Linked DNA regions of Homo sapiens. The protein of the gene in region 1 purifies or fractionates together with the protein of each later gene. This does not show direct contact. Each region holds a gene or a part of one and is shown in the gene's direction. Other genes may lie near its edges.

The links. Proteins that work in one complex are often made in the same cells at the same time.
Region 2: the proteins of ANKRD39 (region 1) and UBA3 purify together in Homo sapiens (affinity purification with mass spectrometry; one large-scale study listed by BioGRID and IntAct). This does not show direct contact.

The regions. Positions count from the first base shown.
Region 1 is NC_000002.12:96,851,517-96,855,016, reverse strand, and holds part of ANKRD39 (ankyrin repeat domain-containing protein 39), read left to right. Parts: intron 1-575; coding exon 576-679; intron 680-1,412; coding exon 1,413-1,616; intron 1,617-3,500.
Region 2 is NC_000003.12:69,063,366-69,066,865, reverse strand, and holds part of UBA3 (NEDD8-activating enzyme E1 catalytic subunit), read left to right. Parts: intron 1-2,754; coding exon 2,755-2,798; intron 2,799-3,362; coding exon 3,363-3,427; intron 3,428-3,500. UniProt on the Homo sapiens protein: Catalytic subunit of the dimeric UBA3-NAE1 E1 enzyme. E1 activates NEDD8 by first adenylating its C-terminal glycine residue with ATP, thereafter linking this residue to the side chain of the catalytic cysteine, yielding a NEDD8-UBA3 thioester and free AMP.

The DNA.
Region 1 (3,500 bases):
GTGCTCACCAGGGAGATCCTCTTCTGTGGGAGATTGTCACACTGCCTTGGCAGCCTTCTGGAGGCATCATTATATTTTTTAAAAGTTGTTTCTGGCTGGGCACGGTGGCTCACGCCTGTAATCCCAGCACTTTGGGAGGCCAAGGCAAATGGATCACTTGAGGTCAGGAGTTCAAGGCCAGCCTGACCAACATGGTGAAACCCTGTCTCTACTAAAAATAGAAAAATTTGCTGGGCATGGTGGTGGGCGCCTGTAATCCCAGCCCGACCTGAATTTCACTCTAGATCCAAACATTTTAAACATTACTTCATCCAGCACTTCTGTGTTTGAAGTGGGATGGAGATGTCTGTGTCCGCCCAGTCCTACTGTCCTGATGAGATGTGCCCATCTGTCTTGTTCACAGCTAAGTCACCAGCATTCAGAACAAACCTTGACACAGAGGAGGTGCTCGGTTGATATTTGTTGAAGGAATGAATATTCTTCACTTTATAGACAAGAAAACTGAGGTCAAGAGGCAAAGCAAGCACTGAAACTCCCATTCAGCATCATTCAGTCCTTTGGTTGCCTTTCTGCAGGAATCTGGTCGGCAGCCCTGAATGGAGACCTGGGCCGAGTGAAGCATTTAATCCAGAAGGCCGAGGACCCAAGTCAGCCCGACTCGGCCGGCTACACTGCGCTGGTGAGCTAGGGAGGAGCACAGGGTCAGGAGACAGAAGCGTTAACTCAGGAGACACCTGCTCTCTGAGGAGGGGGACTGATGGTTACCTTTTACCTCCTCCCTCCCTTTCTTCTCTTCCAGCAAAATTTCTCTTTTTAAGCATCATATGAACCTGGATTTTTTAAATTAGTGTGAGACCTTTACATCAATAATTTAGGTTTTGTTTTGTTTTGAGATGAAGTCTTGCTCTGTTACCCAGGCTGGAGTGCAGTGATGCGATCTCAGCTCACTGCAACCTCCGCCTCCCAGGTTCAAGCGATTCTCCTGCCTCAGCCTCCTGAGTAGCTGAGACTACAGGCATGTGCCACCACACCCAGCTAATTTTTGTATTTTTAGTAGAGATGGGTTTTCACCATGTTGACCAGGCTGGTCTCGAACTCCTGACTTCAGGTGATCCGCCTGCCTCGGCCTCCCAAAGTGCTGGGATTACAGGCATGAGCCACTGCGCCCAGCCAATGATTTAGTTTTATTTTCGTAACAATTCTTTGAGATAGGAATGATCATTTTCCCCATTTTTCAATTGAACAAACTCAGGTTAGTCACGCAGAAGCTTGCCCAGGTCACACGACTGCTGGGGTTGGCACCTGAGATGATTCCAGGCCCCTCGCTGCAGGGAGGCCATGCTCTCACCTCTATACCACCCTTGTCACCTGCCTGGCTTCTCCCATCTGACCTCGGTCTCTGTTCCCTGCAGCACTATGCCAGCCGCAATGGGCACTACGCTGTGTGCCAGTTCCTGCTGGAAAGCGGAGCTAAGTGTGATGCCCAGACCCACGGGGGTGCCACTGCTCTGCACCGAGCCAGCTACTGCGGGCACACTGAAATCGCGCGGCTCCTGCTATCACATGGGTCCAACCCCAGGGTGGTGGATGACGACGGCATGACCAGTCTGCATAAGGTGGGCCCGTTCCCCCTTCCAAAAATGTCGTTTCCTTATTTTTAAAGTTATAACATGTTCATGTAGAAAACATGGGGAAAACAGGAAATCAGAGAGAAGACAGTTAAAATCATTTGTAATTCCCTTGCTCACCTGTCATCACTTTAGGACTAATGGGTAATTCTCCAGCCTTTTTTCTGAGCGTGTAAATTAAAATGTACAGTGGCACTTTAGTTTTCTTTCCCTTAGAGACATGTCATGAAGCCTTTTCCATATAGTTTTCTGAAACTTATACATACTCTTGCCTGTTCCTGTAGTCCACTTGCTATATGTTAGCCGGAGTGATCATTTAATTAAACTCTTTCTAGCTGGAAATACCTGCACATGGTAAACAATCTGAAGAGTCTACAAGGGCATGCCATGAAAGCGAGTTTCCCTCCCACCCAGCTCCTCATCCCTCAGCCTTCTAGGCCCGTCCTTTGAGGTGTTCACTTTACCGATTGCTTTTCCTTTTTTGTGGGGAATGGGGTCTCACTGTGTTGCCCAGGCTGGTCTCAAACTCCTGGGCTCAATTGATCCTCCTGCCTCTGCCTCCCTAAGTGCTGAGATTACGGGTGTGAGCTACCCTGCTCGGCCACTTTACTGAGTTTGCAGGCACCTTTGAGAGGCGGTCTATGCATATGTGGCATATGTGTATAAATCATATATGTGTGTAAATCATGTGTAAATCTAGTCCCCTCTTGCCCCTTCTTTGATTTTCTCCTGGAGCGATTGTTTAAAGCAGTTCTGATCATGCCACGCCCCCACTTGGAGTCCTTGAGGCTTGCTTTTTCCAGGTCCATGAGTTATTGTGAAGGTTTCCTGGGGTTTGCTCCTGCCCCCTTCTCCAGGTTTTTTTTTTTTTTTTTTGTCTTTTTTGTCTTTTTTCCCCACCCCTCCAGTTTTCTCCTGAGCTCTTGTCCCCTGGTCTCTTACACTCAGAGGCCCTACTAATAATTTTTCTTTTTTCTTCTCTTTTTTTTTTTTTTTTTTTTTGAGACAGGGTCTCACTCTGTCACCCAGGTTGGAGTACAGTGGCATGATTATAACTCACTGCAGCCCCGACTTCCTGGGCTTGAGTGATCTTCCCACCTCAGCCTCCTGAGTAGCTGGGACTATACATGCCTGCACCACCATGACCAGCTAATTTATTTTATTTTATTTTATTTTTGAGACAGGGTCTCACTTTTTCACCCAGGCTAGAGTACACTTGCACAATCACAGCTCACTTGTAGCCTCGACCTCCTGGGCTCAAGCAATGCTCCTACCTCAGCCTCCCAAGTAGCTGGGACTACAGGTGCATGCCACCATGCCTGGCTAATTTTTCTAAAAACAGCTTCACCACATTGCCCAGGCTTTTAAAATTATTAGTAGTAGTAGTAGAGACAGGGTCTCTCACTATCGTCTCGACACCTGGGCCCAAGCAATCCTCCCAAAGTGCTGGGATTACAGGCATGAGCTACCACATCCAGCCATTTTAATTTTCTTGAACCTACTACTCTGTCCCCCCAGAGCCATATTTAACAAGTTAGCCCCTGTCTGGGTGCCTCTCCCCTCCCGTTTTTTATGTGGCTTGTTTCTACCCTTTCTTCTGGATCTCAGCTTACACATCACACCCCACGAGAGCCTTTCCTGATCCCTAGACATGGTGAGCTCACCTGGATGTATGCCTAGCTGTATGCCATGGACTCAACTTTTCCTAATTCCTGTACCCCTGGAAATTCCCTGTTTGGGGTCTGCGTATCTCAGTAGAGACAGCTGGGGCTTTGTCCTGTTCAAATTGTTGCAGCCTGGCTGGGCACAAAGGCTCACACCTGTAATCCCAGCCCTTTGGGAGGCCAAGGCAGGCTAATTGCTTGAGTCCAG
Region 2 (3,500 bases), on another chromosome or scaffold:
CCAATGGAAGAAGCATAGTCTTCAACAAATCGTACTGGAGCAATTTCATATCCATAGTTAAAAGATGAATTTTGACCTAAACATACAAAATTAACTCAAAATGGATTATAGGTGTAAATATAAAATATAAAATGAGCCAGGCGTGGTGGCTCATGCCTGTAATCCCAGCACTTTGGGAGGCCGAGGTGGGTGGATCACTTGAGGTCAGGAGTTCGAGACCAGCCTGGCCAACATGGTGAAACCCCGTCTCTACTAAGAATACAAAAATTAGCCGGGCACAGTGGCTCCCAGCTACTCAGGAGGCTGAGGTGGGAGAATCGCTTGACCCTAGGAGGCTGAGGTTGCAGTGAGCTGAAATTGCGCTACTGCACCCCAGCCTGGGCGACAGAGCAAGGCTCCATCTCAAAAAAACAAAAAAAAACACAAAAAACCATAAAACGATAGAACTTTAGGGTTTGGTGGAGAGTGCTTAGGCCACGTCAAAAGCAAGACCTGTAAAAGGTGGGGTATGGTGGTGCAGATCACTGAGGAAGCAGTGAGCTTTTATCATACCACTACAGAGTCCTGGCTGCTTGGGAGGCTAAGGTGGGAGGATTGCTTGAGACTAGGAGTTTGAAGCTATAGTAGGCTGTGGTCATACTGTGAATAGCCACTGCATTCCAGCCTGGGCAATGTAGTGAGACATCATCTCTAAAAAATTAAAATAATTTTTTGTAAAAGCATGAGCCATAAAAGGAAAAAATTGATACACTGAACTTCATCAAAATTAAAAACTTGCTGTGTGAAAGACCCTCTTAAACGGATGAAGAAAAGCCACAGACTGGAGAAAATACTTGTAAAGCATCTGATGGAGGACTCATATCTAGAGTATATAATGAACTCTAAAAACTCAACAGTAAAACAAAAAAAAATTCAATTAGAAAATAGACAAAAGATAGGAAGAGATATTTTACTAAAAAGGATGACGAAAAGCACATGAAAAGATGTTTCACATCAAACTAAGACCACCATGAGCGATACTGTTACACAACTATTAGACTAAAAAAAAAAAGCCAGTCTCAAAAGGTCATATACTGCATGATTCTGTTTATATAATACTCTTGAAATTACAGAATTATAGAGATGGCTGGGTGTGGTGGTTCAGGCCTGTAATTCCAGCACTTTGGGAGGCTGAGGCGGGAAGATCACTTGAGCCTGGTTGTTTGAGAACAGCCTAGGCAACAAATGAGACCCTATTTCTGTAAAAACTAGAAAAATTACCCGGGCATGGTGGCACATGCCTGTAGTCCCAGCTATGTGGGAGGCTGAGGCAGGAAGATCAGTTAAGCCCAGGATGTGGAGGCTGCAGAGAGATCTTTATTGTGGTCGAATAGTTATGTGTGTTGCCTGGGGTGGTGGTTACACAAATCTATGTGTGTTTAAATGACAGAATTATAAACACACATTGTACCAATGTTCTGTTCATGGTTTTGGTACTGTACTATAGTAAGATGTAACTGGGAAAGGTGCATGGTACCTACCTATACTATCTGTGCAACTTACTGCGAATCTATATTATTTCAAAATAAAGAGCTTAAAAATGCAAATACAGGCCCCTGTAGGGAAAAAGGAAGAGTTGGTGGGGGTGGGTTGGTTAGTGGGGGGCACTCAGTTTGTCTATCCCCATTATGTGGGTCTGGGAAACTTTGGGTATTTTCTAGAAATCCAGATTAGATTTCTTAGTCTGGCTCTTGGTTCCCTGATTGCCATTCCTCCACTGTTTGCTTTGTTTCTTTTTTGACCTCTTTCTAGCTGTAGCTTCGTTCTCCTGCTTGCCTAGCATTCAAAGGGAATAGAGGTCTGAATGACTGAGGGCTAGAATTGAAATTATTGTTCATAGCTTTATTTGTAGGCAAGAATTAAAAATCTAGAGGAAGCATGTATTGTCCCTTTTTTCTATGTATTGTCCCTTTTTTCTCTGTATTGCTTTTAAAAAATTTATAGTGGACTATTTATCTTAACTTTAGAGAAGTTGCATAATTTATAAATTATTAAACAATTGCTCCATTCATTAGAAAAATTAAAACAAGTTTTTGCACACATGTGCTATTAAAACATTAAGTGCTATATTGACTCACCCACAATCAGTTTTGAATGGAGTTTCCTTTTTAGCCTCCAGGGATGGGAAGACTGGTAATAGGATTTGGTAGGGTAACTTGAAAACTGAGTTAAATGAGAAAGGTAGAAAAAATTCGTACTTTTTCTCCTCCCCACAAAAAATAAAAACAGTAAAATCTTTACCAACTGAAAAAGCTGTTGAAATTTTCTGTATGTTAAAAAAATGAGCTTTGCAGTAACTCTTAAAATCACCTAGCAAAATAGGAACTATAATGTGCATCTTTCCTTCACTAAAACATTTATTGCATCTCTTCTTGATGCTGATGATTGAGGACACACATTCTGCTTTCCTGGGGCTTATGGTTTTATATAAAAACCAAAGCAAAGTAGAAAGTATACCTCCTACCAAGGGCATAAATATAATGATATAGGGGTTCAGGAATGAGAAAAAGTAAGTAGTTAGGGGAGGAATGGCAGAAAAGTTTTGTCAGAAAGGAGAGTTGTGTTCATTTAGTCAGATTCCTTGAATTCCACTGATGTGAACATTGATTACTTATTTCTTGTTGTAAATATATGCAGAGTGTGTTCCTTATGGCATTGTCAAATTCATTTTAGAAATTAAAACTTAGCTGCTTAAGTTCCTTTACTTGTATTCAGACATTTCAACAAGATTCAAGATTTTAACGACACTTTCTATCGACGTAAGTTTTTTACTTGAAATTAATGCTCACTAGATTCTTAGAATTTTTTAGTTGGTAGCTATTCAAATATTGCTAGCTATTTCAAGGCTATTTCTTCACTTGCTTTCCTCTCTCACTGTTGGCTTTTCAGTAATGTTGCTGATAGACTGAAAAGAGAATGCTAGTTTTAGCTGACATGACCAGCTACAAGTTTCTATGCTTACCTGAATGAGAGTTCACTCAAGGAATTGGAGCTCTGAGAACGTATGTGGGATTACAGTAAAAAGTGCTTGTGGTTTTTTTGTTGGTTTCTTAGAACGTGCAAATTGTTTTCTGCAAGTGCTTTTTTTTTTTAATTAGTAAACTTTATTTTTTAGGGCAGTTTTATGTTCACAACAAAATTGAACAGAAAATTTTTGAAAACTTGGGTTCTCATAGAGCTTCCTGTTCCCACAAACACACTACCTTCCTAATCAACATCTTGCACCAGAGTGGTACATTTGTTGCAGTTGATGAATCTACATTGAAAGATCATCATGCAACTACATATTTAAAAACTAAAGTTGCTTTTTTTTTTTTTTGTAGAATTTCATATTATTGTATGTGGACTGGACTCTATCATCGCCAGAAGATGGATAAATGGCATGCTGGTAAAGACTTTAGTATTGTTATAGTTCTCTGAAGTTCTTGCTGCTGTGCTTCACATCCCCAAAATTAGAATTG